Linked DNA regions of Homo sapiens. The protein of the gene in region 2 interacts with the protein of the main gene of each other region in a pairwise test. Each region holds a gene or a part of one and is shown on either strand. Other genes may lie near its edges.

The links. The genes of interacting proteins can lie anywhere in the genome.
Region 1: the proteins of HEY1 (region 2) and PLEKHB2 interact in binary tests that used the Homo sapiens proteins (3 or more experiments, as listed by UniProt).
Region 3: the proteins of HEY1 (region 2) and YTHDF1 interact in binary tests that used the Homo sapiens proteins (3 or more experiments, as listed by UniProt).

The regions. Positions count from the first base shown.
Region 1 is NC_000002.12:131,122,325-131,129,350, reverse strand, and holds part of PLEKHB2 (pleckstrin homology domain-containing family B member 2), read right to left. Parts: intron 5,782-7,026; exon of another isoform or gene 5,684-5,781; intron 3,599-5,683; coding exon 3,446-3,598; intron 2,668-3,445; coding exon 2,565-2,667; intron 1-2,564. UniProt on the Homo sapiens protein: Involved in retrograde transport of recycling endosomes.
Region 2 is NC_000008.11:79,764,745-79,771,583, forward strand, and holds the start of HEY1 (hairy/enhancer-of-split related with YRPW motif protein 1), read right to left. Parts: upstream 3,024-6,839; 5' UTR 2,920-3,023; coding exon 2,831-2,919; intron 2,551-2,830; coding exon 2,475-2,550; intron 2,349-2,474; coding exon 2,265-2,348; coding exon of another isoform or gene 2,253-2,264; intron 1,989-2,252; coding exon 1,907-1,988; intron 1,732-1,906; exon of another isoform or gene 1,520-1,731; coding exon of another isoform or gene 1,459-1,519; intron 1,028-1,458; coding exon 444-1,027; 3' UTR 1-443. UniProt on the Homo sapiens protein: Transcriptional repressor which binds preferentially to the canonical E box sequence 5'-CACGTG-3'. Downstream effector of Notch signaling required for cardiovascular development.
Region 3 is NC_000020.11:63,199,117-63,206,142, forward strand, and holds part of YTHDF1 (YTH domain-containing family protein 1), read right to left. Parts: intron 4,692-7,026; coding exon 3,171-4,691; intron 1-3,170.

The DNA of each region.
Region 1 (7,026 bases), on a different chromosome or scaffold from region 2:
TTTTTTTTTTTTTTTTTTTTTTTTTTGAGATGGAGTCTCACTCTGTTGTCCAGGCTGGAGTACAGTGGTGTGATCTTGGCTCACCGCAACCTCCACCTCCCAGGTTCACGCCATTCTCCTGCCTCAGCCTCCCAAGTAGCTGGGATTACAGGTGCCTGCCACCACGCCTGGCTAATTTTTGTATTTTTAGTAGAGACGAGGTTTCACCATGTTGGCCAGGCTGGTCTCGAACTCCTGACCTCAGGTGATCCATCCGCCTTGACCTCCCAAAGTGCTGGGATTACAAGCTTGAGCCACCACACCCAGCCCAAGTGTTCTAGCTTTCTAAGGAATGCAGTTAAGTTGCAAAATTCCCCAACTGATTTTGTATGTGGCATACCATTGTCATTCACTTTGCTAAAGGGTATCATACTGGATTATTCATATATCTTATATAGATTTTGTTGTCATATCAGGTGGAAGAGTCTAGTAGGGACTTTGGTCTGCCAATTCAGTTCGATTATTTCAGAACATTTTTCTTGCCTTAGATTTGTAATTCTCTCTTTTGGGTTGTACACTTTATGGACATCAATAATCTTTCTGAACTTTTTTTAGTCTAACATATCTCTGATCTTTTCATCTTTTTCCTGTCACTGAGAGTATCTCCAGTCTTTTCTTCCATGCCAATGATTCACTTTTCATTTGGGGTTGTATTGAAGGGAAGACCACTTTCTTCAGATTATAACGTGAATGGCACCCTCTTGACAGCAACAGACCTTCTAAGTTACAGACACAAAAGAGCAGAAAAGAAACATAAATCTCTGCCCTCACACAGCATATATTCTAATGAAAGCAGATGATGAACAAGATAAATAGTTGATAGATGGTGAGTGTGTATGGGGACAGGGAGATACAATTTTAAATATGGTGGCCAGGAAAGCATTCCTGAAGACTCTGCTCCTGTTTCTTGGGTTTTATTTTCCTCCACTCTAGGAGCTTTTCCTGAGGCTTGCATTTTCCTTTTCTTATTTTTCCTTCATGGTATATCTGCATAGTTGCCAAGCCACTTCTTTACATCCTGCTCACGTTTAACATGGGAAGTGATATCTAAAACTGCTGTTTGCTCTCATAAAGTATGAGTTATTTCTCCTTGACACGCTTCCTACCTAATCTGGTATCAACTGGTAGTTCCACCCTGTTCTACCTCAGTCCAGCCCAGCAACAGTTTGATGGCTAGGTGTTACCCTCACAATCAACATTCTGTAATCTGAGGGCACAGGGCTAGAAGAGAAGGACATTTCTTCTGAGACCGAGTAAGTCTTTTCTGAAAACTCTGGGTCCTACACTCTCTTCTGAGCATATTCCTTTGAATGTCCCATGCTAGGGCTCACTTCACCAGACAGAAAATTACCCAACTCCTGTGAGCTTCAGTGCCTTTCACTGCCCTGCAATGATGAGTCCTGGGAGAACCGTCCAGCCTCTGCTGAGGCCCCAAGGACATCACATTCTTAAGGATTTTTTCCCTAGCTTTTCCAAAAAGTAACTTACACTTAATCAGCATCACTCCAGATTACAGGGTAATACTGAAAATTTGCAAGATTTAATTAACTCATCTTGTCACTGCTTCTGGGATTCGGGTAGGATTGAAGAACATCTCAGTAGAATCATCTATTTCTTTCTTTAACTGTTTGTAGTTTGTGCTTGAGATCAAACTTCTTTATTTGGTTGCACCATTGAAATGTTTTCCCCTCAGGGAAGATGATCTCTAATCCATTTCACCATCTTTCTCAAAAGTCTCTATTATGGGTTCAATTGTGTCCTCATGAAAAAGATATGTATAAATCCTAATCCCCAGTACCCTCAAATGGGACCTTATGTGGAAATAGGATATTTGCATATGGAATCAAATTAAGATAAGGTCATAGTGAATTAAGGTGGGTCCTTAATCCATTATGATTGGTGTCCTTTATAAGAAAAGAGAATTCTGGACACAGACACAGCCGAAGAAGGCCATGTGACAACAGAGGCAGAGACCGGAGTGATGTGGCTGTCAGCCAAAGAACACCAAGGACTACCAGCAACCACCAGAAGCTAGGAAGAGGCAAGAAAGGATCCTACCCAGCATCTCAGAGGGAGCAAGGATCTGCTGACACACTGATTCCAGACTTCCAGCCTCCAGAACTATGAGACAATGAATTTCTGCCATTTCCGTCACTCAGTGTTCAGCAATTTGTGACAGCAGCCCTAGGAACTGACAGTTTCCTTACTCTTTACTTTCTTGCTTTTCTGGTCATTTTATTTCAACTATGCCCGTTACCCACTGTGAATCTAATAATGAAAGACAGCATGATGAGACTGCTATTCCTTTCTGCCATTTTCACCACAATGGGATCGGCCTAGGCAGTCTGAGAGAGGCAGAAACTAGAATTGGAAAAGCGACTCTTGCATTTCTCTCATACATCCACTGAGTCCCTTATTCTGATGCCTGAAAGAAAACTCCACGCCCTTTCTTTTCATTTTTTGGTAATCAGAAGTTAAAATAGAAAATACTTTTTAAATTAAACACATAAGAAAGCAAAACTTACAAGCAATCATCTGTGCTTTCTGCACAAAGACTAATTGTTTTCCCATCTCGACAAACAATCTGGAGCATGCAGTCTTTTGACTTTCCATCCGGGGGCTGAGTATCTATGAAAAATAAGCAGAATAAAGGAACTTTTTTCAGGATTTCTTCTTACATTTTCTAAGAACTACCAGCTCAGAGAAGCAAAGGACTAGACAATAAATCAAGTGCTACATCTATGAAAGAACCCTCTGCCTTTCCAAGAATGCAGAAAGAACATAGCTAGGCTGACTGACAAGACCAGCTGCCAAGATGACGTCCACAAAATATATTCGGCTCACTGCAACCTCTGACTCCCGGGTTCAAGCAATTCTCTACCTCAGCCTCCTGAGTAGCCAGATTACAGGCACCTGCCACCACACCTGGCTAATTTTTTTGTATTTTTAGTAGAGTTGGGGTTTCACCATCTTGGCCAGGGTGGTCTTGAACTCCTGCCCTCGTGATCCACCCACCTCGGCCTCCCAAAGTGCTGGGATTACAGGCATGAGCCACCATGCCTGGCCAACATCCCAGATTTTAAGCAATTGACTGGAGTCACCATCAAACAGAAGCCAGTTTCTGAGTACAAAATCAACGTAGTCTAGGGTGGCCTGTGCTTCCTGAGGTTCCCAGAGCTCTGGCTCCCTCTCCACGAGAACGAGGGACGTGGACTGAGAACACTGATATTTCCCGACCATGTGGTTCATAATCTAAGTGCCTGGGGCCCCACTGTGGTCGCCCCTCTGAGATGGAGCCCTTCTTCAATCTGTTAATGAAAGCAGAACAGGGAAGGAAGAGGACCAAGCTCCCAGCAAGACAGAGGAAGAGCAGAAGACAGAAGTTGGCCAAGACAGGCCAGCTTACCCCGACATTCCTGCCCCGTGCGGATGTTGATGCAGTCCATTGGCATGTGGACCTTATCCTCGATATTCTGCCGAGTCTGGTCATCATAATAGATCAGGTGACCATCCGACCACAGATCAAACCAGTTCTTCTTCCAGCGCTTCAAAATAGTACCTGGAAAAAAAAAATAGTACGGTTGTTTTTTTTTTTTTAGAGACAGTCTTACTATTTCGCCCAAGTTGGAATGCAGTGGCTATTCACAAACATGATCATAGGTCACTGCAGCCTTGAACTCCTGGGCTCAAGCAATCCTCCCATTTCAGCCTCCCGTTTAGCTGCGACTACAGGCACATGCCACCATGCTCAGCCTTCAAAATTTAGAAATCTGAAAGGTTGGCTTTGCGCCAAAAGAGCAAGGACATAGTCCTCTAATTCACAGCAGAAACAAAAAGAACTCTTCCCCTGGCCCCTTAATTACACCTGTATAGAATTACCCAAAGCAGTCCCTCACAATGAAAGGGAAAGCAGAGCACAGGGCCCGCCAACTGGTGCTTTAACAGGCTGCATGCAGCACACACTGTCAACAGAGAATGCTGCCAACCAACTTAGAAGTTCCAACACTTTCCGGTTAGGGTTTCTATTAAAAAGCTTGCTTTTCAGCAAATGAAACATATCTAACATTTAATTCCTCATACAGTACTAAACTTTAAACCTCTCAAACTTTTCAACTTTCTAAATTTCCAAATATTGTCTAAATTGCCAGATTGATCAGAAAATGCTGGACTGTGAAGTCTCTATACGCAAATAAAAATAATATCTTTCTCTTTTGAAAAAACACATTTTGGCCAGGCACGGTGGTTCACGCGTGTAATCCCAGCACTTTGGGAGGCCGAGGCAGATGGATCACTTGAGGCCAGGAGTTCGAGACCAGCCTGGCCACGATGGTGAAATCCCATCTCTAAAAATACAAAAAATTAGCTGGGCGTGGTGGCTCGTACCTGTAATCCCAGCTACTAGGGAGGCTGAGGCAGGAGAATCGCTTGAACGCAGGAGGTGGAGGTTGCAGTGAGCCAAGATCGCACCACTGCCCTCCAACCTGGGGGACAGAGCAACACTCCGTCTCCAAAAAAAAAAAAGAAAAAACACGTTTTTTTTCTTTGTCCTTAAGAGTTTTCACAGATACTCTTTCCTACCATTTCCCACAGAAGCCCACAGTGTGGAAGGCTCCCCCCTTCCTGATGCATACACTGGATAAATGAGCACAGCAGGATATAGACCAGGCCCTGCCTGGCCTCCCATGCTGTGCACATCCTACTACCTCACGTACTTCTGTCAGCTTGAGCAAATTCAACCTTTCATTTGTGATCTTGGACCAGGTATTTAACGTGGTATATAAAACAGTAATTTCCTTTAACTTGGTATATAAAACAGTAATTTCCTTGACTGCATGAAGGGAAAACCCCTGCAGTGGACTTAAAGGCCAGTTGTAGCTCCGGTCATCTCTTTACCTTCCTCACATCCATTCACTGCCCACTACACCTTCTGTTCCTGTACATCTCATCCCATTCTTGGCCAACACACACAATCCCATTTCGTGTACTTCCCTTTATGTTGCCGTGCCTGCAACTGGTGTCAACCAGATATGCGCCATTCGGCTTTCCTGCCAGTAGTATCAGGCACTCTCCTCACCAGGAGGGGTGTCCACTGCACTTGCCTAACTGACCACTAAGTGATACCCAAGCATCCACTTGACTACCTGAGCTGTGCAGAAACTACCAAATAGGCTGGGCGCAATGGCTCATATCTGTAATTCCAGCACTTTGGGAGGCTGAAGTGGAAGGATCACCTGAGCCCAGGAGTTTGAGACCAGCCTGGACTACAAAGCAAGATCCCGTCTCTACAAAGAGAAAAATAGCCAGACATGCTAACACAAGCCAGCAGTCCCAGCTACTTGGGAGTCTGAGTCAGGAGGACCACCTGAACCTGGAAGATCAAGGCTGTAGTGAGCAGTTATCACGCCACTGCACTCCAGCCTAGGCAACAGAGCAAGACCCTGTCTTAAAAAGAAAAAAAAAAAAAAGCCAGGCACAGTGGCTCATGCCTGTAATCCTAGCACTTTGGGAGGCCGAGGGCGGGGGGCGGGGGGGGGGGTGGGGGGGGTGGACCAGGAGGTCAGAAGTTCAAGACCAGCAAGGCCAACATGGTGAAATCCCATCTCTACTAAAGATATAAAAATTAGCCTGGCATGGTGGCGCACACCTGTAATCCCAGCTACTCAGGAGGCTGAAGCAGGAAAATTGCTTGAAGCCAGGAGGCAGAGGTTGCAGTAAGTTGAGATCATGCCATTGCACTCCAGCCTGGGCGACAAAGCAAGACTCTGTCTCAAACAAACAAAAAGCCCTACTAAATAGAGCCACAGAAACACAGAGACAGGTGGAACCACTGGGTCAGGGAGTTCTGCCCAAGTATCTCACCTGCCATCAAAGCCCTGGCTGCAGACTCCCAAGTCAGGCTGTCCTCCAGAGGCCAGGACTGGGTCCCAACAGTACATGTGGCAATGGCAGGAAAATAAGTCCCAAGGCTGGCTTTGCCTACCTGTGACCACATCACATGTGTATCTCTGCTGCTCTACAACCCCGTGAATATAATGTATCTCACCTCGTTTTACTGGCATTGATACTTCTACTTTCAGGAAAGAAGGAAAATTAACCCATACATATGGGGATGGGGTTATATACAGAGTAAATCGTCTGAATACACACTTCTGAAACACCCATGGACCAGAACACTGGAAAAGTCTATGTGACTTATTTAAAGTACATCTATTTTGTGTACATCACCATGCTAGGCGTGATGGGGAGGACAAAATTGTCAAAAGAGTCACTGATCACTATGTTGACAGAGCACTTACTTCAAGTTGTGGTGGAAAAGGGAAAGCTTGCCCTCAAACAAGGGTGTGGCAAAGGACATCCAAAGGGCCAAAGGAGGGCACACCCTCAAGGTCTGAGCAAGGGTCCCCATGTCCCCTGACCATGGGGACGTTGAGACCGCAAAACCCAAGACTAGGAAACTTGGGCTAGACTTCAACAAGCCAGGACTTTCTTTGTGAAGCTAACATTACGACACCTTTGTCTATTCTAAGACTACAGGACTAACAGACAAGGGGACATACAGTTCAGCTCCAGGTTGGGAACATGGAACTAGTCACAGACACACAGGCTGAAGACCGGTCTCTGGGTGCATATAATGTCAGTGTTGAAATCACACAGTCCTGACTTTGAATGTAGGTTTGTCACCCACAGTTCACACTTAGACAAGTACCTAACCTCACTGAATCTCAATTTCTTCAACTGGAAATAATACCACTTACCTCTCATACAGCTGTTGTGAGAATTAAGAATATATACATAAAATCTATTTAACAGGAACACAAACAATTCGTAAACAATAGTTTTGATAAACCATCTCAGGTATGCCATCAATTCTTACTGGTAGACTTGACTTTAGCTAAATTTCTGAAAGTAACCCTCATAGATAAACTCAAGTCTCTGAACAATCAATGGTATGTGATACAGCTCAGTTTTTGACTAGAATCATAAATG
Region 2 (6,839 bases):
ATCATGTTAACATTAAGCATAGTGGTTTGGAAAATTAATTCTAAAAACAGACCATAACTATACAAGGAGAAAAACAGACCAAAAATACTAAATGTTAAGATTCCCCAAATTTTGAGGCAAAAACGGAATCATTCTGGTTTACAAAGTAAATTAGGCACAGTACAAACCTATCACAAAGTGTTGGCTTATACTCACTATTTCAATTTAATGTCTTGAACAAAATTTAACAACTAGTTTTTAAAAACTGCTAATACATGACATGATGAAAAAAACATTAAAAAAGATAAAAGTAAACCAACAAACCTTTAGTCTTTAAAAAAAAAATTATCTGAAAGTGTACCTTTTTCCTTTTTACTTTTACTGACGACTTTAAGGTGATGTTGGCAACAGTCCAGCCCAGCTGGGATTTTAAACTTTCCCCTCCCTCATTCTACATCAGTTCTTTAAAAAGCTCCGATCTCCGTCCCCCAAGGTCTATAGGGCTTGCCAAGGTTTGCAGCCTGCGTGGGTGCTGAAGGGCTCAGTGCATTGGGAGACAGTAAGTGGAAGGAGCCGAAAGAGAAGGGGAAGGCCGACAGGGAGGCCACTGAGGAGAGCAGAGGCGGCGACAGTTTGGAGGCGGAGGTGACCACAGGGAGCACCGGTCCGAGGCTGCCGCTAGGGGGCGCTCGCAAAGCAGGCGCCTCCGGATGTGCCGAGCCCAGCCTGCCCTGGTGGTGCGGTTCCGTGGGTGAGGCCGTGGTGCCCGCGTTCCCGTGGCCGTTCTGGGGCAGCAACAGCGGGTGCGCGATGTGCGGGTGATGTCCGAAGACGGTCCCCCAGGGAATGTGTCCGAGGCCCGCGTGGGCGCCGCTCGCGGCTTCCCGCTGGGAAGCGTAGTTGTTGAGATGCGAAACCAGTCGAACTCGAAGCGGGTCAGAGGCATCTAGTCCTTCAATGATGCTCAGATAACGCGCAACTTCTGCCAGGCATTCCCGAAATCCCAAACTCCGATAGTCCATAGCAAGGGCGTGCGCGTCAAAGTAACCTAAGCAAAAGAACAAAAGAAAAATCTCAGGGCTTTGCCCGTTTCCCTCATTTCTTAAGTCCCAGAGACAGCCCTTCCTGGCAGATACCTGCATCCCTTAAAACACAACAGTCAGGGGTTCTTCCGAAAGTCTTTGGAATCAACAAAAATCTTTGCATTAATCAACATAAGCAGAATGTGTTTGCTAATGCAAGTTCAAAGCCCAATTAGAAGCTGCAGAGCAGAAATTGGAATTATACCCTACCAGCAGATGAAACTATGTTCATTCCTTTAATGTTTTCCCTCAACAACAACAAAAAATACATCAAGGGCAGAGAAACCACAGAGCAGTGAAATTCATTAGACACACAGATGTAAGTTATCATCGCGGAGCTTTTAGGCACTTGGACCTCAGTAAAGCATTTTCCTGCTGGAGAGACATACACACAGACCTTGGTCTCCCGTTAGGTTTCCTTTACTTAACCAGAATACATTTCTTTCCTCAAGAGGCATGTGGCAGCACCTTTTTTTTAAAATCCCGTATACCAAAAATAAGACCACATATTGTTTTTAAATGCTTTTTCTCAAAATAGCAATGGACAAATGTGAAAGCTACCTGATCTGAATCAGGGCTGTCACAACTTTTGAAGACCTCACAAATAATAGGTATTTTTCCAAAAGATGCACTAGCTCAATCCGCAGAGAGCTGGGGTGGTGAATTCACTGGAGAAGATTCTATGTGCATTCGAAAATGTACTGACAGGGAACTGCACACACCACACACCGTTCTCTCCCCACCCCCAAAGAAAAATCAGGCAGCTACTGCACCAATCCTGGCCTTCAGCCGCTGCTCACTCTTTGCCAACCATTCAGAGCCCCCACTAGGTCTAGGAGATGTACCTTTCCCTCCTGCCGTATGCAGCATTTTCAGGTGATCCACGGTCATCTGCAGGATCTCGGCTTTTTCTAGCTTAGCAGATCCCTAAAGATGAGAATGGCAAAAGATTGATTTGGCACAAGTTCCTTTGGGGAACAATTTAAAATATGCAAACATATATACAAAGATACATGCTTTGTAAATCGTAAAGCATGGACTAAAGCAAAATCAGTTGTCTTCACAAAATACGCTGGTATCTGTGTACGAATTCATCTAGGCACAAGCAACACAGCTATTTTCCAAGGCGGATGAGATTAATGAGGGGAAGATTCAGAAGGTGCAGATAGCTATGCTGAGAGCTTTACCTACTTGCTCCATTACCTGCTTCTCAAAAGCACTGGGTACCAGCCTTCTCAGCTCAGACAAACTGTTATTGATCCGGTCTCGTCGGCGCTTCTCAATTATCTGCAGAAGGCAAGCAAAACAAAGGAAGGCATTACCATTACGACTGTAAATTTCAAAGACAAAAAAAAAGGTGGTTATTTCCGTTAATCAATAACAAAAATAAAAGGAGAGTGTAAAGAGACTCACTCCTCTCCGTCTTTTTCTGGCCAAAATCTGGGAAGATGTAGTTGGGGACATGGAACCTAGAGCCGAACTCAAGTTTCTGAAAAGAGAAAAAGAACAAACAAAAACTGAAATCGCCGTTAAACGAGGAGAGGTGATCTGAGAGGTCGCCCCCACACCCTCCCCGCACTCAGACTTTTTTTGCCACTTGGGCTGGAAGGCACCTAGGGGTTCCCTGGCCGCAGGCTGCCGCCAGCCTGCGACGCGCGGAGGTCAGCGCAGGGCACCGGCGCGCCAAGGGTCCTAGCCCGCTGTCACCGCGGCAGGCCTGCGCTCGCCTCCCGCTCTGGCTCGGCTCCGCTCCGCCGCCGCCAGCTCACCCATTCTCGTCCGCACTCTCCTTCTCCACCTCGATGGTCTCGTCCAGCTCGCTGTCCGAGGAGCTGTACTCGGGGTGAGCTCGCTTCATGCTGGCTCCCTGGGGGTTCCTGGGGAGGGTCGGCGCGGCGGGCAGGGAGGAGTTAACTACAGCGGCGCCTCTCCGCTCTCGGCTGCTTGCGTTCCGCACACACTGATCCCGCTCACGCTTTGCCTCTGGTTAAAACTCAACCATCCTTTCCCACGCTGAGCCCCTTCCCAGGGCCCTGGGGAGGGCGGGGGAGTGGGGAAGGCGGGCGAGGGGGCGGAGAGGCGGGGCGGCAACTCCAGGGCAACAGCCGCCCCCCGGCCAATCCGGTTTCTCGCGCCGCTGATTGGCAGCCGCTCCGGGGAGGGGCGGGAGCGAGGCCGAGGGCTCTAGCGGACCGCGCCCCCGCCCTCCGCGCCCGCCCCTGCCCGGCGGCGGTGCGTCGGCTCCGCGGGGGCTCTGTCCAGCCTGCACTCAGGGGAAGGAGGAGGCGCGGGCGGCGGGGAGGCGCGGGAGGCCGGGCCGGGACACAAGCCCGCCGGCGGCCGCGGCTCCTCCCCGCCCCGCGCGCCCCGATTGGCCTGGCCGCGCGCCAGGGCCGAGCCTGCAGCGCCTCCGGTGAGCCGCACGCGCCGCGGGCCGTGGGAAAGTGCCGGCGCCGCGGCCGCCAGCCAATCCGGGCGGCCGGCGACGGCGACGGCGGCGGCCGCGCTGGCGGCGGCGGCGGCGGCGCTGGGCGTCCGCATGAATGGAGAAGAATGGGCAGGCGGGGAGCCGGGCCGCGCGAGGGCGCGCCGGCGGGGGCTGGGCGGCCGCCGGCCGGGCCCCCAGTGTGAACCTGTAATCGGAGCCTGGGCGCCGGCCGGCCTCGGAAGCCGCCGCCTAGCGCCACCGTAAATCTCGCCCGCGTGGCCGCCAGTGCCCGGCGGCTGGAGGCGCGCGCTGTTAGTGGGGCCGTGCCGGGTGCACCTGGCCGGGCTGCGCGCCGGCGGCTCCGCGGAACCCGCAGGGAGCCGGGAGAGGGGGCGCCGGGCGCGTCCACAGTGGCCACCAGCCCAGGGGCCGGTCACATGGAGGAGCAAGCTGTGGGCTCAGGGGACGCTCTTTTTGATTTCTGGGACCGAGGCCGCACATGCAGCCAGACTCGTTTCCGCAGGGGCTTCCCAGCCGCGGAATGGAATGAATACCCCTGTGCATCTCATTTCCGGGGAAGGGGAGCACTTGTTTTTTCGGCCGCCTTGGGGAAAAAAAAACCCAACGGTCCCTGGGAATAATCATTATGCTGGGATTTTTTTGTTGTTCCCCCGCTGCCCCCCCCCCCGCCCCCTCCCCCCGGCGGCCAGATCCTCTCAGCGGGCGACAGGGTGGCGGTGCTGGCGTTTGCGTCTGAGGCCGGCCTTGCTGAGGGAATGCACGTCTCTGGCCCCAGACACACACCTCTGGCTTCGGTGGCTTGGCGTGGCGTGTACTGGGTGCCACGTGAAGTCCCCCCCGAGTCCACTAAGAAGACAGATTTTTTAAAAAATACAGTTGTAAATCTCGAAACTGATTTCTGATTCCAGAAACAGAATGGTTGTTTTAAATTTGAAAATCCGGTCTTCTGTCCCTTACAAAGGTACACAGCAATTCGCATTCATCTCAGATCCACTCTGAAGCTTGTAGTCCTGTCTGTGAGGGAAAGCTTAATATCCATCGGTGAGAATAACAAAAGGCGTTTTCTCTTTGCAAAAAGCTTCCTGGTTTCTAGACTTCCTTATTGATCTCAATGCTATTTTTTTTTTGAGATGGTGTCTCACTCTGTCGCCCAGGCTGGAGTGCAGTGGCGCGATCTCGGCTCACTGCAACCTCCGCCTCCCGGGTTGAAGCAATTCTCCTGCCTCGGCCTCCCCAGAAGCTGGGATTACAGACGCGCGCCACCATGCTCAGCTAATTGTTTTTGGTATTTTTAGTAGAAACGAGGTTTCACCATGTTGGCCAGGCTTGTCTCAAACTCCTGACCAAAGGTGATCCGCCTGCCTTGGCCTCCCAAAGTACTGGGATTACAGGCCTAAGCCACCGCGCTCGGCCTCAATGCCATCTTAACACATCCTGGATGCCAAGCACTCTGAGTGGCCGGCCTGGGCCTAATCCATAGTTCCTCTCTGGGCACCCCCATCCCTCCACCACCGCCCCCAACGGGAAATACAACCTCCTGGCTCCCACTGAAGCTTATTCCACTTCACATCACCTCCAGCCCTGAGCCTTTCCATGCAGCCCCTCTGCTTCCCTGTCTAGGCTGGGCCCTTCCATCAGCCAGCCTGGGTTTGTTGCTGCTGGCACCCCAGACCTCTGGCTTCCTGAAACTCCACCGCATGCTGCCTGTTAGTTGTCAGTCCGAGGTCAATCCCACCAGCCGACTTTCTCTCTGGAAGTGCAAATTTTAAGGCTCCTTCCTGGCCCTCCCAGTCTTCAGTCCAGGGCATCCATCACTACTTCCTGCCTCTTCCCTCCCAGAAACTGATGGTCCAGGCATAGGAAACCATCCCACCTGCTCCCCTCTGCCTTCCAGAAGTCCCTCTGACCTTCCATTTCTTTCCCCAAAGTGACAGGCCACCCTTCCCCAGAACCAACGTGTCTACTTCCCCTCTGGCTCTATAGATTTTCCCAGCCTCTGGCACCTACAATGAGTCAGCCTTTCCTGCTTTGGCTCATTTCTGCTGCTGTGGAGAGGCGTGGACAAGCTGCAGATGTTGAGTGAGACGAGACCGGGTGGGGTTAGGGATGCTTAACTCTACATTGGCATCCAAATGAAATATTGCTCACATGTTCATGATTACTTTTATGTCAAAAAGGAGGTTCTCTACGGCCAGGCGCAGTGGCTCACACCTGTAATCCTAACACTTTGAGAGGCTGAGGCAGGAGGATTGCTTGAGTCCAGGAGCTCCAGATCAGCCTGGGCAACATAGCAAGATCCCCATTTCTTAAAAAAGAAAATTAAAAATTAGCCAGGCATGGCATGCACCTGTAGTCCTAGCTTCGTAGAAAGCTGAGGTGGGAGGTTTGCGTGAGGCCAGGAGTGCCAGACCAGACTGGGCAACACGGCAAGATCCCCATCTCTAGAAAAAATTTAAAAATGAACCGGGCATGGTGGCCTGTGTCCTAGCTACTCTGGGGGCCGAGGCTTGAGCCCAGGAGGTCAACGCTACAATGAGCTATGATCATTGCACAGCACTCCAGCCTGGGTAACAGAATGAGACTCTGTCTCTAAAAAAATTACAAATGAGGTTGTCTTGCTTCTTAAGTTTGACTGATTTTTCAATGCTTCCAATAAATACGTATTCTTCTATGTGCCATGTGCTGTGCTAGGGCCTGAAAACACAAAGGTGACCCAAAAGTCATCCATCTTGCACTCCTAGAACTCACATCCTAGGGAGAAGACAGAGAATACACAGTAAAGTAGTTATGGATGCTCCAGTGCTTGGAAGCACTTGTTGGTAAGGAAAAACGAGGGGGTGAGGATTCTTTATGAGGTCTGGGAAGGCCTGTTCTGAGTTTGGAAGGGACTTAAGATCAAGAAGAGGTGAACTAGGTGGTTCAGTAATAACCGGGAAGGAAGGGGCGGAGACCTCTTCCTTGAGTGGTGGGATCAGAGGAGAGAGTTACACTGAGGGCACCAGGCCCAATTTTCTCCCATCTGCTGTGTAGAAGGGATTTACCCCTGGAGGCTTTGAGTGAAGAACGACTTTAAACATCTTTGCTACCCTGAATGAAAGGTACGTCCTGCAAATTGACCCCTTCTGCAACTTAAATGGGACTGCCCAGGCCTGGCCCCTCAGGAAAAGGACCTTTTACCATTTGGGGGTGGGGAAGTGGGCAAGTGTTGCCTTTTATAATTCGTCTCTCCTGAAGAATCACCCTTTTTTATTTCGCTCAAAGGCCTATTTTCTTGCCTGGTTTGTAGAGTCTGGGTTCAGTTACTTAGCTTACCGTTCCGCAGGCTGCTT
Region 3 (7,026 bases), on a different chromosome or scaffold from region 2:
AGGTGGGTCTGTTCTTCGAAGTCCTGAGAGAACCTTGAGAAAACCGCCCGGGGGCTCTACCAGCACAGGCGCACAACCCTCTCCTCGGCACACTACTTTGTTCTTAAAACTGCACTGACTCGGCCGGGCGCAGTGGCTCACGCCTGTAATCCCAGCACTTTGGGAGGCCAAAGCGGGCGGATCACGAGGTCAGGAGATCGAGACCATCCTGGCTAACACGGTGAAACCCCATCTCTACTAAAAGCACAAAAAATTCGCTGGGCGTGGTGGCAAGGGCCTGTAGTCCCAGCTACCCGGGAGGCTGAGGCAGGAGAATTGTGTGAACCCAGGAGGCAGAGCTTGCAGTGAGCCGAGATCACACCACTACACTCCAGACTGGGCAACAGTGCAAGATTCTGTCTTAAAAAAAAAAAAAACAAAACAAAACTGCACTGACTCTTCATGGGAAACCCAGAGGGAGAAAGCATTAGACACCCAGAGTCTCAGCCTCAAGACACCTAAGACTCCAATCCTGGATGAGCCACTAGCCCAGCCCGTTAAGCACAAGGCCTAGAGCACCTTCGCAGGCAGGGAGAGCCAGCAGCGAAGTCCAGTCTGGGGACCTCCTCAAGGACCACTTCCATTTCTCTACACTGCCCAATAAGCTTAAAAGATATTTGACGCCGGGCACAGTGGCTCATTCCTATAATCCCAGCACTTTGTGAAGCCAAGGTGGGAAGACTGTTTGAGCCCAGGAGTTCAAGACCAGCCTGGGCAACATAGCAAGACACTGATTCTACAAAAAAATACAAAAATTAGCCAGGCGTGGTGGTGCACGCCTGTAGCTACTCAGGAGGCTGAGGCAGGAAGACCGCTTGAGCCCAGGAGGTCAAGGCTACAACAAGCTGTGATTAAGTCACTGCACTCCAGCCCGGCAGACGGAGAAAGACCTGTCTCAAAAACAAAAACAAAAAGCTATTTGAGGCGGGGCACGGTGGCTCACACCTGTAATCCCAGCACTTTGGGAGGCTGAGGTGGGCAGATCACTTGAGGTCAAGAGATCGAGACCAGCCTGGCCAACATGGTGAAACCCTATCTCTACTAAAAATACAAAATTTAGCTGGGTGCAGTGGTGGGCGCCTATGATCCCAGCTACTTGGGAGGCTGAGGCAGGAAAATGGCCTGAACCTCGGAGGTTGAGGTTGCAGTGAGCCAAAATTGCACTACTGCACTCCAGCCTGGCTGACGGTGAGATTGGCTCAAAAAAAAAAAAGCTATTTGAAATTCCACCAAACATTAACAAACCAGGTTCTCATTTGTCACTTTCAATAAAATGAATTAATGTTAACACTGACCCATATGGGCCCAGAGTTCTCCAGCTTGGCTAACAGTTTAGGGGAGGGTTACCAAGTTCCTTCCAATGATGCTCCACCAGCGGCTCTGTTGGACTCGCCTTGGAGCACCCAGTGGTTTGAGGAACACTTGGATCTTGCCTGCAGGCAGATGCCCACAGACCCTGCAGGCCGCTTACCAAGATGCTTAACCCATAACCCGACACACAAAAGCAGTTATCTAGATCAAGTTTTTATAATGCAAGTTGTAGGACACTAGAGTTTTAAAAACACCAACCAGGTCAGGAGTCCGCACACTTTATGAAAACCCAAGTATTACGGTATTTAAGAAGAAAAACTGTGCGCGCACACACACACAGCCAGCTTCCAGTTTAGCCAGCTAAGGACCTAAAGCTTCATTAGCAATTATCCCTGCAACTTTAGCAATTCAGTATTCATTTTATACCTAAAAGTCTGTAATCCGAGCTATTGTCTGTAATCCCAGCTACCTGGAAGGCTAAGGCAGGACAATCACTCGAACCCAGGAGGTGGAGGTTGCAGTGAGCCGAGATTGCGCCACTGCACTCCAGCCTGGGCAACAGAGCAAAACTCCATTTAAAAAAAAAAAAAAGACCTAAAACACAGAATTTCAGTAACTAATTCAGAATTCAGTAACTGGAAATAAATGACATCCACTTCTTTTCTCACAAAAGAGAGGGACTGATACTTTTCCAAAGTTCTACAAGCCCCAAGTTGTTCAGGACTTGCATAATGTAAGACTGCAGACAGTGCAGGCGGCTCTACTCTATACATCCCTATATATGCCATGTACACGCCTTTCTGCCCAAAATACATTAGGACACTTGGTGCTCACAGGTGAATAATTCCTTTAACATAGAGAACTGAAAAAAACACTGAAAACCCATCTATTATCAACTGACATTTCAGGAAGGGATATTTTTTAAAAAGCAGGAGAGAATCTCAGGATGAACTCTCTCGAATAAAGGAAGCATTATGAAGTATGTCAGCATCATCATTTTCCCATTGCTGGTGCCAGTTTACGGGCATCTGAGCCCTTCTGAAGAGCAAACACACTCAATCCCGTCAGACATCACATGACAGCACAGACTCAGGAGTTTGGCTACAAGTATCCCAGGAAATCAGGACTGTCTCAAAAAGGCCCAGTCAATGAATTTTTGATATAGGATCCATATTTGTCATTATAAAATGTCTGGATTCCAAACCTACCCCACCACCACCATTTTCTTTACGACCTAGATGGAGTGAGTTTGTTTCCAAAAACTGCAGGATACTGGGTTTTTAAAAGAAAAATAAAGCAACGACCTCCAGATCAAAGACCAGAGATTCCCAACTACTGAGGGACAGTGCCCTGGGAAGCAAGGGCCCTTGGCCAGGTGGGGTCTCGATGCCCTACGTGCCCACCGCAGTGCTTCGTGAATATCACCTAAGTGTTCCTCATGGACGGAGGCTGGGAAGCACTGTTCCAGAAAGTATCACAATTCAAAAAGGAGAGGAGAAAGTTACCCTCAAATTCTTTGTAACAGAAAAACAGAATGTGTACACTGTGGTCCCAATTATTCAATTATAATTGGAAAGTGATCAAAGTCGTTCGGTGACATCTACCCAAATACCATCACTGGTTACTAGCAGTACTCTCCGCAGGGAAAGCCCACGAGGCTGCCAGGACCTGGGCCCGCCCACCTGCGGCCAACTGGGAGCTGCCTGTCACGAGACTCAGCTCGGCGGACCTGCCGCATCTGCTCACCACCGGGCCACCTGGTCTAAGTACGGCACCAAGGACACATCTGCATGGCAGTTGCCTGCAACACCCAGCCTCACCTTGCGCACCACCTCCTCCTCCTCCTGGCGCTTCTCGTAGTGAGCAAAGTCGTCGAAGATGGAGGTTGTGTGCTTGTAGGAACTGATAATTTTCAGCACTTGCTTGGCTTTTTCTAAGGGCACCTCCTGGGTGTCCCGGGAGTTTGTGACCGGTTTGTTGTCGTTATTCTCCAGCCTGATGTGCCGGAGCTGGTTATTGGGTACATCCTTAACAAAAATCCACTGGACATCAAACTTCCCCTTCCACTTGTCCTGAGACCAGACCCCGGCACTGGTGCCGTAGTCCACGGGGGACTTCATCTCGGCCACCCCACAAAAATGCCCACTCCCATTGACGCTGAAGAGCAGGTAGACGGGCCCCTTGCTGCTCATGCAGCGGAAGGCGCTGTCCAGGCGCTTGTTGCCGTGCTCTGTGCTACACCAGATGGAGTACTTAATGGAGCGGTGGATGTCGTCCTCAGAGTAGCTCTTGATGATGAACACACGCCCGCTTTTCAGATTCCACTCAAACTCTTTCGGGTTGTAGCTGTGAGCAGCCTTCAGTTTTTCAAGGACGGGGTGGGATTCGACGCTGGGGGCAGAATTAGGCTGGACGTTTCCAGGAGAGTTGCTATCGCTGCCAGCCCCTCCGCTCTGCCCAAACGCCGCGTTTCTGTTGCGTGGGGCAACCCAGCGGGTCTGGGGTGGCTGCTGAGGGCTCTGATACTGCGGTTGAGCCAAAGCTGGGGGCTGTGCTGGGAGAGGCTGAGCCACCTGCTGGGGCTGTGGGGCAGCCTGTGGAGAGGGTGCCTGCTGGGGGACTGGGGCCTTCGGCACAGGCCCCTTGTTATCCCAGGTGCCAATGTCCATGTTATGCTTTATGGGTGGAGGGGGCAGCCCACCCCCCATGACAGGCCCGCTCTTTGTTTTCATTTTAGGCTGTGGTTTTGCAGGCTTGCTGGCAATGGCAGCCCACGAGGTCGGCTTTGAAACTGGCATGTTCACATTTGTCCCACCGTTGCCAGAAAGGACACCAGTCAGTGCCACGCTGCTGACGACAGAGCCCACCGTCTTGACGGCGGAGGAGCTGACGTCCCCAATCTTCAGGCCAACCATGCCCTGCTCCAGGCTGTTCATCCCGGGGGCCTTGCTGAGGGTGTCGCTGTGAAAGCCTGGCTGCCCATCAACCACCGTGCCACCCAGGGAGCTCGGGGGGTAGGTGTAGCTGCTCCCATACGCGGAGCTCTGGGTCTGCTGACCTTGAGACCCACTTGTCCCCCATGCTGAGAACGCAGGGTTTTCAGGGAAAAAATTGAACCTGTGCTGATAGATGTTGTTCCCCAGGCCCCCAGGCTGCCCAAAAACAGCATCGTGCATAAAATGATGGTCTCCGTTACTGAGCTGTCCGTAGGTGGTGAGGTATGGAATCGGAGGGTCCCCTGCAGTAGACCACGGAGCCTCATTGAGGGAGTAAGGAAATCCAATGGACGGCGGGTAATAGCTGGACAGGTAGGGGTCGCTCATTGAGGGGTAACTGTTACTCTGCAAAAGCAAACGTGACAAGTTACACCACTTCTACAACACGAGATGCTGAGAATGCCAACCGCCTCTTGCTTAAGCACAGGTGGAGCAAAAACAAAACCTGCACAGCATGGGGCTACTCCTTCCAGAAAGAAAGCTGTAGTCGCCAATGTGAGAACCAAATCAAGACAGAGAAATTAATAACGAACACAAACCAGGGTGCCGTCTCAAAATACGAAGCATCATTGGCAAGGCTCTGAATTCAGGCTAAATGACGAAGCTATGCCTCTCTAGAACTGGCAAGGTAGCAGCCCCCTCTACTCTTACCTGCAAAGGAATCCAGAGGTAGAGGAGTAAACCCCTGCCTGCTGACGACAACGCTTATGACAGACACGGACGGCATCATGGGAACTGAAACAGCTTTGTAAGGCAGAGATATTTCCATTGGCAAACCAGGATGTGCAGGGCCGTGAGGCAGTTTGCTCCAGAGAACAGACCCCAAGCTCGCTGATTACTCAGCAGGCCCTGGGCGCCCACCTCTGGGCCTTGACATTCCTCCTGGGACACTCTCCCATACCTGGACCAAAGCTCTCCCAGAATCCTTCAAGGGTGCTTCAGAGGCTCCTTCCACACACCCTTCCTAGCAGATGGCCCCTGCCTCTAAGTCCAAGGGGGTTCACATTCCCATGATTTCCTGGGCACAGCGTTGGGCTCTTGCAGTAGGCCCCTGCACAGAGGGCCCTGGCTGGCTCCAGCTCCTCAGCCAAGAGAAAGCATCCGAAGTGTGGACTCTGTGCTCCGGGTGCAGAGCAGCCCTCACTCTGGATGCCAACTCACCTGGGCTTCCTTATGAAAACATGTCTGTGTAGTGACTGGAACCTCAGAGAGTGGTTTTAAAGTGACGGAACCATGAGGCAAAAAGGTCTGCTAGAGAAGGTGAGTGCCTGAGTGCCCCATCGTAGGGGTCTCTGAAGAGCTGCCCAGGGCACAAATTTAGACTGAGGGTCAGCAGTTCTGGGACGGCATCTCCTTGGAGAGACTCAACTAAGGGTCTGGTCATGATTGGGTCCCTCCAACACTGCCTTAAAATGACTTTCGTGTGAGGTGTGTCTGTATGTGTGTGCGCACACACACCTGTACACAGGCCGGTGAGACGGGGTCCAGTGTGAGGTAAGAAGGCTCCCACCTAGACGCATCGTCTGAGAGTGCCAAGATGCTATTACAGAAAACAGAGCCGGAAGTAAAACACGGGGCTCTCCAGTCTGTGACGCCCGTTTTTGGATTTTTAGTTTTCCCGCTCCCCGCCCCCCAGTCCCCCAAGTAACCAGAAGGTTCTACATAAAGAGAATATGCTCCAGACCTCATCTCACAACCTCATCCCTGCCACATTGACCTTTCATGTTGGCATCAAAGGCTACACTATGAAGGATAACAGCACCCAGTCGGGGACACCAGGTGGGAAAGTAGCTGAGGCAATGAGGGAGACTGTGGGATCCCAGACAATGAAACAGGCCTGCTTCACTGGAGGGGTGACCACAAGCAGCTCTCCCTGGGGGCAGTGCCCCAACACCAGCCAACACTGGTGGACTAATGAACCAATGACCCGGCCACCACTTCCTGCCTCCTGCTCCCATCCTAGAATACTGAGGGCTTCAGAAATCCAATTTATTTTCTAATTTTCTTCCTGTTGACTTCTCCACTTGTGAGCAGACAATTCCAGAACCCCCCCCTTTTTTTTTTGGGACGAAGTCTCACTTTGTCGCCCAGGCTGCAGTGCAGTGGCACGATCTCAGCTCACTGCAACCTCCGCCTCCCAGGTTCAAGCGATTCTCATGCCTCAGCCTCCCAAGTAGCTGGGATTACAGACACCCACCACCACACCCGGTTAATTTTTGTATTTTTAGTAGAGACAGGATTTCATCATCTTTGCCAGGCTGGTCTCGAACTCCCAACCTCAGGTGATCCACCCGCCTCGGCCTCCCAAAGTGCTGGAATTACAGGCATGAGCCACAGCGCCTGGCCCCAGAATCATCTTTTAAAATGCACTAACTGCTGTTTCCCCGTAATATAAATTTGAGATTCTGGGGGTATAAGAAGACAAGTGGGATGCTATCAGTGTTCCACAAACATGAGATTAATCTGAGCTTATTCTCCCTCAAAACAGTTTCCATGATGCTGGCTCCTTTGCTGCAGCCTTTCCCTCGGGTGCTGCCCTGGCCAACAGGCCCAGACTGGGGGGGTGAGCGAATCAGGGGGGCGGTCTGTGCACAGGACTTGCTCCTCGAGTCACTGGCCGCAGGTGCCTTCAAGGACGGCAGGCAAGGGGACAGTCCCCCCCACAGGGAAGCCAGCCCTC